Homo sapiens: one gene and its partner. The protein of the gene in region 1 purifies or fractionates together with the protein of each later gene. This does not show direct contact. Each region holds a gene or a part of one and is shown in the gene's direction. Other genes may lie near its edges.

Region 1 (4,505 bases):
GGTTGCTGGGAAATGACATATATAGATTGCTTGGTGAACATAGAGTAGAGAAGGGGGTGGCTCTTGGAACTGTATATGGTGAGCTCTGGTACATTATCCCTGTGCTATATAGGACAGTACTTTTTTCGTGACTCTTGTGGTCATGTCTGTTGTATTGGACATGTCTCTGCCCTGGAGAGGGCCAGACAGATTTCTCCCTGTGTGGATTGCACTGACTCTACCATCAGTGTATCTCCAGGCAGTATATACCTTTCAACATACCGTCTCCCTATGATTAGATCCAGGCCAGCCTTAAGAGTTCTGGCTGTTCCCTGAACTGAAATACAGTCGTATTTACAGATAATCTCTTAATTTAAGCACTGAGTGTAACTTTCAGATGGAAACTCTAAGCAAGTTTTTGAGGGGCTATGTCTGTCACCTTAAAACATTGACCATCTTTCTGACCTTCACTTGCTCCATTGGTTTGCCGTGGCCATGCTGGGTTTTTTTTCTCTCAAAAGCATCAAGATTATGCTCATTGGAGGGTCTTTGTATTTGCTGTTGCTTCTGCTTGGAATGTACCTACCCTAGGTCTGTTCATGGCTGCCTTTTTTAAGGCTTAAGTCTTGACTGAAATGTTGCCTCTTCAGGGAGATGTTCCCTGACCACTCTGGCCAAAGCATGCTCTACTTTTTTGTCCTTCAAGGAGCCTATCTGTTCCTGAAGTTCTTAATGTTTGTCTTGCTTCACTAGAACGTAAGCTCCCTGCAGGTACAGACCCTCTATCTCCCATGTCTAGAACACATTATGGGTGCTCAGTAAATATTTGACTAAATGACTGCAGGAAAAAGTCATTAACTGTCCATCTAAATTTTAGTTCACTTTCAGCTTGAACTTCCACAGTGGAGTGAAAAAATGTTCTGGTTATAATCATTGATTGCAAAAGTTACATGTATCTGGAAAACTGCATTGTAACACTAGGCCATGGACTTACGGGGCAATTAGGTAATAATTAAAGATGTAATGAGTTAGTGTCACTATTTTTCACAGATAGCACTTTCTGTTCCGTATCTGAAGCACTCAAAAAATGCAGTCTTAGTATTCATATAAACATGTCTTTAGTTAGCCTTTCCTTATCCTCATTGAATGACTTTGTGGTATGGACAGTCAGCATGAGCTCCAGGGTCCCAGCTCCCCACTCACTCACCGTGTCCTCAGACAAATTGCTAAACTGTCTGTGCATGCTTCTCTTCTGTGCAATGAGAACAGTAATTCCAACCCCACGGGATTCAGCGAAATGAAATGCTTCACAGAAGCCCCTACACATAATATCCTTCATAGTTGGAGGTTGCTAGCTGCTTTTGCTCCTTAATTAAGCAAATAAATTAAACAACGAGAATATTGGTGATACTTGTTATTTCTAAATTGACGCTAATTGTTAATTGTGTTTTGTCCAGTATCGGTGCTAATTATGAGTGGAGCTGACCTATTAGATGATGTCTATATTTGTCTAAAACATTACTACTCTAGTTCTTGCTTTTTTGTCATAATAGAATTGTATTTAAAATTGTAAGTACTTAAAGCAACATATATGTTGTAGGATCTTTTTAAGCAAGATTTTTGTTGATAATGCTTACAGTAATTTAATCTTCAACAAAAACAATATGTTGACCTTAATACATTGGTAGTGTATTAATAATTTTATGTTTGTTCCTCAAGCCCAGTTGTGCATTTCCAGTTTGCCATGACACAGAAGAGCGCTGTAGACTTGTGCTTAGCTATGTTCTAGAGGTAAGTTTAAGTTTAGTCTTCACTTTTTTCGTAAAGTTTGTACTTGATTATGCAAATTACACTTGTTTGTTGGTATCTAAATGTTATTCTGAATTGTGTTCTGCTGCGATTTTTTTTTCCTTAAGCATAAAGTGAAAATCAGATTTGTTTTTCCCAAATCTTTCAGATCAAACATAGTTTTTGAAAGTCTGTTTGTGAGATGGAAATTTTCCTAAACGTATTCAGTAGTCCAGATACTGTCTTATATTTAGTTTTCAGTTGACCTGAAGTTAGATAGATAGTGAATGCTTTTCCTTTTTTTGCAGGGTTTAAAATCTGTCGATAGCAGCATCAAAAAAGAAAGCGACCTTCCAGCAGCTGACCCCAGCACTCCAATCCCGTTAAAATATGAAGATGAATCCTCAAGAGGGGGTCCCGAGGGGCTAGAGAAGCAGATGGCCTTGTTTTTGGACAAAAGTAAGTTGAATTGATGTGCAAATAAGGCCTTCAATAGAATAATACACTGGTTCTTTATCAACAGCAGACTTATGTCAATTAAGGCATTAATTGAAAGGCATTGAGAAAAAGATATCCTGTGAACTGGAATTAGGGGTAGTATTCTTTCATTTGAAATATAAAAAGGATAATTTTGATGTTTCATGGACATTTCTAATAAGAGCATAAGGAGCCTGCATCTTCCTGTTACCCACAGTGGGGAACTAATGCTTCAGCCTGGTGGAGTTCTCGCTGGATCGTGTAGGAGCCACAGACTTAGCCAGACTGCCTAACTTCATATCTTGGCTTTGCGAGGGCAAGTTGCTCCACTTCTTTGAGTCACTTTTTATCTCTTTCAAAATGGAGACGATAATAATGGTTTCTTTAAAGGGTTGTTAAATGATTAAATGATTAATATATGTAAAGTGCTCAGAACAGTGTACATAATAAGCACTATAGAAGTGTAGGCTGTTGTTACTGCACAGTACTTGAATAAGCTACAAATGTCACTTTTAAATTATCTAGTTCTTCAGGAATATAACATCATGAAGAATATATGGACTTCGAAGCAGAAGTTGTGAATTTCTTATTTTAACCTAAGTTGTATTTCTTTTTCCAACCTTATTTCTTTCCCCCTTTTAAATCAGTTTCAATTGTTTAAAAAAAAAAAAAGTGTAGAAAGCCTGTATGTTTGAAGTACATCTGAATCATAGTGGAAGCGCTTTCTGGACCCTTCTTCTTTTCCTGAACAAACATGGTGGAGGTAGGAGAGGAATAGATTTATTTCCCCAGCATTTATATAGTGCTGCTGGTATGCCAGGCTTCGGCCTACAGGCAGTAAGGAGATCACACCAGGACTTTTGCCATTCTTTTTTTCTGAAATGCCTTTTCTGTCTCCTTCTCCATCTCCCCTGTTGAAAATCCTGCTCAAGCTCAGAATCTCCATGTTTCCCTCTGTTCTCCATCAGAATTACTTGATTCTCTTACCACTTTGTCCTGTGAGCCTGCCTTATGTCAGAGTTCCAGCATTAAATGGTTTTACACACACATGCACACACACGGTTGTGAACAAGAACTTCATCTTAATTTTAGTTTCTCACAATGCCTCTTACTCACAGATGATGCTTATATCAGCAGAGGAAAAAAATCCATACACACATTAAACCATAATGAAGACTAAGTACCTTTCATTGCCTTGAAAGACTTGTGTTCTAGCTGATTAAAAAATGAGAAACCTTCAGGCTGGGGGAAGGGGTGGGTGTTTTTGTTATTTGCAGAGCAAAATTTTCCACAGTATTTTGTTCTTTGTCTGTTAATTACACTTAACATATTTTGTTGTGGTTTATGTTATCAAGGATAGAGGCCATATAACTTCATGTCACAGTTTCCAGTGCCTGGCACAGTACTTGGCAGAAAAATGATCATTTGTTGAGTAAAGAAGGTAGCGATGGGCTGGACTTTAAATAAAGAGTATTCCTTGTAGAGGAAACAGTAAACTAAGATGGGAGATAGGAAAAACAGGCATGTTTATAGGTGACAAGCAGTAACTTAACATTGGCTGATGGGTAGTAGGATGGACAAGTAGGAAGTGAGACTGAGAAACATGCAACTAGCTAAGTGGGGAGAAGCCGTTTTCATGTTTGAGGACAGGCTTTCACGCTGATCTAAGCTGTGCTTTAGGAAGGTAAACTTTGACAGGTTGACACATAGACTGGAAAAAGGAGACAGGTGTCACTCATGAGGTTAGCTATGTCAGTGACACTGGAAGAGAATGACAGAGTTGCCGATGTCAGGGAAGCAGAAGGCCTTAGAACTCCCAAGTGAGAGTCTTTTAACACGGCCATTTCACTCCAGTGTATTTAAGCAGTAAAGCATAGTATTTACCAGTCTTGTCACCTAAGTCTAGAGTGTTTCCATCAAGAAACAGAAAATATTTTTTGTGCATGAGACTTACAGTCAAATGAAATGTGCTGTCTTTTTTTTTCTCTCCATGTCACAGTGGGCTCCCTTCAGAAGGGCAATTATTCCAGTCAATCTGGAATGATCCCTGGCTCTTGGCAACATAAAATGAAACTTCAGCTGATTCTCAAGTCATCAAAGGCCTATTATGTTTTGTCCGATGCTGCCATGAGTCTTCAGAAATACGGAAGAGCATTACGATACATTAAATTAGCTTTGCAAAGCCATGGTAAGCCACTATAAATGAATATGTTTAATAGGCACTGGGAAGAGAGAACAGAGAAGGCATCTGAATCACAGTG
Region 2 (4,531 bases), on another chromosome or scaffold:
CAGGTTTGGGAATCACCTGTTAGAGGAAATGGCCCTCAGGCGGGGTCTCCTCACCTGTGCTCCACCCCGCCTCTCCCTGGTCAGGACAGGAGAAGATTTCTAAGAACTTGACAAAGCAAGAAAAGTCACACCGGTTACACATAAAGCAGGGCGCAGGCCACCCACTCTGCCCATCCCCAACCCCGGGAGAGCTGAAAGCCCCAAAACTGGCAACTGAGGTTTGGGTTTCCATCTCCAGCTCTGTCAGAAAAACAAACAAACAAAAATAACCCCAGCAAAATAAAATCACTTTAGAGTCAGCCAGATCTGGGTTCCAACCCTGGCTCTTCTAGTTACTACCTATGTGACCATGGGCAGGTGTTACCATCTCTCTGAGACTCAGTTTCCTCACTTTTTTTTTTTTTTTTGAGACGGAGTCTCACTCTGTCCCCCTGGAGTGCAGTGGCATGATCTCGGCTCACTGCAACGTCTGCCTCCCAGGTACAAGCAATTCTCCTGCCTCAGCCTCCCAAGTAGCTGGGATTACAGGCACCCACTACCACACCTGGCTAATTTTTTTTATATTTTTGGTAGAGACAGGGTTTCACCATGTTGGCCACGCTGGTCTCAAACTCCTGACCTCAAGTGATCCACACACCTCGACCTCCCAAAGTGCTGGGATTGCAGGTGTGAGCCACTGCACCCGGCCATTCTTCACCTTTTAAAATGGGAATCCAAATGCCTCAATAAACACCAGGCCAAAAACAGGGTGCTCCTTTATGTTAACTCCTTTTCTGGCCTCCACTAAATCCCCCTGTGGGCTTAGGCATGCTGTCCTGCTGGGCTTTGGTTTCCCTGACCGTGAGAAAGGGTTTGTGAAATTAAGTAGCCGTCTGCAGGGGCGGAGCTGGCAGAGGTTGTTACTAACGGGGATCACACTGTCCAGCCTGCATGGTCTGTACTAACAGGAGCCTGCCATCCCCATTCCTTCACAGCTCCTGCTGCCTGGGCACAAATGCCCTGGAGAGTGAGTGACTGTCAGACCAGCCGGAGGGGAGCAACGGGAAGAGCCGCTTGCTGAGAAGAGGTGGGCTTGGCAGGACTGCAGGTGGAGTACTCTCCCCAGTCCCCTGCAGGTGCTGGTCTAAGCCAAGCTGGGAGGATGGCGGCCGGCCCTGGCCCAGCCCCAGGCAAGGGAGGAGCCTCGGCCCAGATGGGGCAGGTGGGGAGCCTGGGCTCAGGTGTGTCCTGTGGGAAGTGATTGCTCCCTGGCTAGCAGAGACAGAGGAAAGCGGATTGTTGGCCCCAGGACCCAGCTCTGAGAGGCTGGGCTTGTTTCCCTGACTCTGCCTTGGAGGAAAGCAATGGAAGGGGTAAGGCTGTCTCAGTTTTGTTGCTGGCTTTCTGTGTGTCTTTTCTTGCAGGACAAGTTCCTCCCACTTGAGAGCCCTGGGGAAAAACTGCTTGTGTGTGCTGCCTCCTGGGCAGGAATAAACATGTCAGGTGTCAGCCAGTGCATTTCTGCTCACACTGGCTTTGCTCAGGGCGGGTGGGAGGGAAGAGGAGTGTGCCATGTCCTGTGCCACCTGGAGTGTGAGGGGACAGGAGGTGCTGAGGAATGACAGCATGTGGCCTAGCTCTACCCAGCCAGCTGGACTCCTGACCTATTCCCAGATCCTCCGTTGAAGCGCCCGCTGGCTTCTCTCTGTGTTTACTTGCCCTTGTGGACTGTATCTGGCCTCTGCAGTGATTAGCGGGCCTCCTGGTCAGAGAGCAGTGCTTGGTGCTAGGAAGCCGGCTGTGCATTGCTCTTTTGTGGCTTGTGGCTCTAGACCGGGTTCTGCTCCTTGTTAACTGTGTGGCCTGGGGCAAGTGTGTCCGTCATCCTGAGCCCTGGGTCCCTCACTCATGAAAGAGAATTACTGGTACAATAACTACTTTGTGAGACTATCAGAGGTGCTTGTATAAATAGAGATGTATGGAAAAGTATCCTGCCCTACGCCAGCATTCCCTGCCCCTTGGATGGCTGAGTGCTGTTGGCACAGTTGGAGACGTCTTGCCTGACTGACCACATCTTCCTTTTTCCTTCTCCAATTCTCCACTCTCCTCTATTTCCGTCTTCAGTAAGTCAGTTTCTTTTGATGTGCGTGTGCATGTGTGTGTGTGTGTGTGTGTGTGTGTGTGTGTGTGTGTGTGTGTTGCTTCCATACTTTTTATTATATATTTGGAGTCAAGTCATTTTCTCCCATGAATCATGTGGCTTCTCACCCACAAGTTTGGTTTTAAATCAGGGCAGAGGATCCATTTTAGCTTTTGCTGGTCAGGAAAAGCTCCCCTTTGTCTCAGGGCAAAGGGCATGTTTCTCTCTGTGGCAAATCACTCCAGTCCAAATAGCTGAGTTTTGGAAAGGGGTGAGCAGGGGCATGTTGGTATGACTTCATCTCCCTCCTCTGAGTTCTCCCCGCCACCCCCACCTCGACCATACCACTTAGCAATTTTTAAGAAACTCCTCCTTGACGGGAAAGTGCCAGGCTGAATAGATTTAGCGTGCTTGTAAGAAAAGGAAACTGACTTACATTTTCCCCATCTCTGATGGGCCAGGATCCGCACTGGCATCCATTATTTCAGTTTATCTGATGACAATACAGTGTGGTCTATGCCATTGCCCCATTTATTGTAGATGAGGTAACTGACAATGTTATCACTTGCTCAGTATCATACCACTGGCAGCAGAGCTGGGACATGAGCTTACATGTGTCAGTGCCAACTATAAGCCAAGCATCGCTAGCAAGGATTACAATAGGACAGCAGGAAGAATGTTAGGCAAATTAGACAAAAATGTACAAAAGAGCATGTTTGTTAGCTAATCACATTTTTATGGGATAAGCTAATATGATTATATAACTTTCACTGCTCAGAGAGAGAAAAAAATCAAGAGAGAAATAAGAGTGGTTTCTCATCTTGAAAGAAGGATTGGTTTCATTTTTTAAAATTAACAAAATATTCATTTATTCAATATATATTTATTGAGGACATGGTTTGTGTGGTCAGGTCCTGCTTTGGTGCTGCAGATGCAGCAGTGAACCAAACGGTTGAAGATACCTGCCTTCCTAAACCTCATATTCTAGTGAGAGAAGACAAAAAAATCTATATATGGGTCAAATGGCAGTAACTGCAATGTAGATACACAAAGCAGGGAAGGGTATAAGGATGGTCAGGCAGGAAGAGGGACTGCTATTTTCAATGAGACCATTTCAAGAAAGGTGTCAATGGAAGGTGGCATTTGAGCAGAAACTTGGAAAAGGTATAGGAATTAATGGGCTGTGTGGATATCTTAGAGAAGAACATTCTACAGAGAAGTAACAGCAGATATAAACGCCCTGAGGCAGAAGGTCGTGGGTGTTTCAAGGAATGACTGGAGCTGGAGGAAGTGAAGGAGTGTTCAGAGAGTGGGGTCAGATGATATAGGGCCCTGGAGGCCATTGTTGAAACTCAAGCATTTCCTCTGAGCGAAATGGAGAGCCACCTGGGCATTGTGGACCAGGCAATGACGCAATCCAGCTTACATTTTAAAAGGATCATCTGACTACTGTTTTGAAAATAGATACTAGGGACAGAAAGTGCAGAAGCTGGCTGACCAGGTAGGAGATTATTGCAGTAATCCAAGCAAGAGAGGTTGGTGGCTCAGACCAGTCTTAGCAATGAAGTGGCTAGAAGTGGTCAGATGCTGGAAATAGATTAAAGGTAGGGTCAGCAGGATTTACTAATGGATTAGACAAAAAAAAAAAAAAGAAAATTGTTGATGACTCCAACTTGTAAAGCTGGAACATCTGGAAGAGTGGAATCAAGGTTTACCAAGATGACTTAACACAGAGCAGGTTTGAAAGCAGATTAGGAATTGGTTTTAGACGTAATATGTTTAGGGGGTCTACATAGGTGGGTTTAGAGTTCAAGGAAGAGGCCCAGGCAGGAGGTATCATCTTGATAATATATCTACATTATCTAGAATAGCACTGGGTGTGTAGTAGATGTTTAGTATGTGTTATATGGGGGATTTTAAAACTTGGCCTCACATTCTCTGACATCTTCCCATGAAGAGGTGGTGCCCATGTTCCCATCCCTTGGTTGAAATCATGACTACTCTGACCAATACAGTGTGGTACATGTGACACTCTGTGCTTTCAGAGACTGTGTCATAAAAGGTCATACCCCATCTACCTCATTTATGAGAACACTTACTCTTGCAGCCCTGAGCTCCCATGTGAGTAATCTCTACCCCAATACTTTCTGGCTAGAGACACGTGATGTAGACATTCTGCTTGACAGTTACAGCTAAGCCTAGCCTTCTAGCCATTCCTGCAAGACTAAAATCAGTACCCTCCAGACTAGACCAGCCACTGGTGAGATGCAGCCAAATGACTTTTACCAACACCCTGTGGAACAGAGGGAGAACTCAGCTGAGCCTCGTCCAAATTCCTATCCCACAAAATTGTGAAATATAGAAAAATGCTTTTTGTTTTAGGCCACTCAGTTTTGGGGTGGTTTGTTTTCA

The links. The genes of interacting proteins can lie anywhere in the genome.
Region 2: the proteins of EDRF1 (region 1) and FYB2 purify together in Homo sapiens (affinity purification with mass spectrometry, with the first as the bait; one large-scale study listed by BioGRID). This does not show direct contact.

What each region holds. Positions count from the first base shown.
Region 1 is NC_000010.11:125,736,220-125,740,724, forward strand, and holds part of EDRF1 (erythroid differentiation-related factor 1), read left to right. Parts: intron 1-1,698; coding exon 1,699-1,770; intron 1,771-2,075; coding exon 2,076-2,226; intron 2,227-4,243; coding exon 4,244-4,432; intron 4,433-4,505. UniProt on the Homo sapiens protein: Transcription factor involved in erythroid differentiation. Involved in transcriptional activation of the globin gene.
Region 2 is NC_000001.11:56,816,103-56,820,633, reverse strand, and holds the start of FYB2 (FYN-binding protein 2), read left to right. Parts: upstream 1-1,229; 5' UTR 1,230-1,343; coding exon 1,344-1,352; intron 1,353-4,531. UniProt on the Homo sapiens protein: Adapter protein that plays a role in T-cell receptor (TCR)-mediated activation of signaling pathways. Required for T-cell activation and integrin-mediated T-cell adhesion in response to TCR stimulation.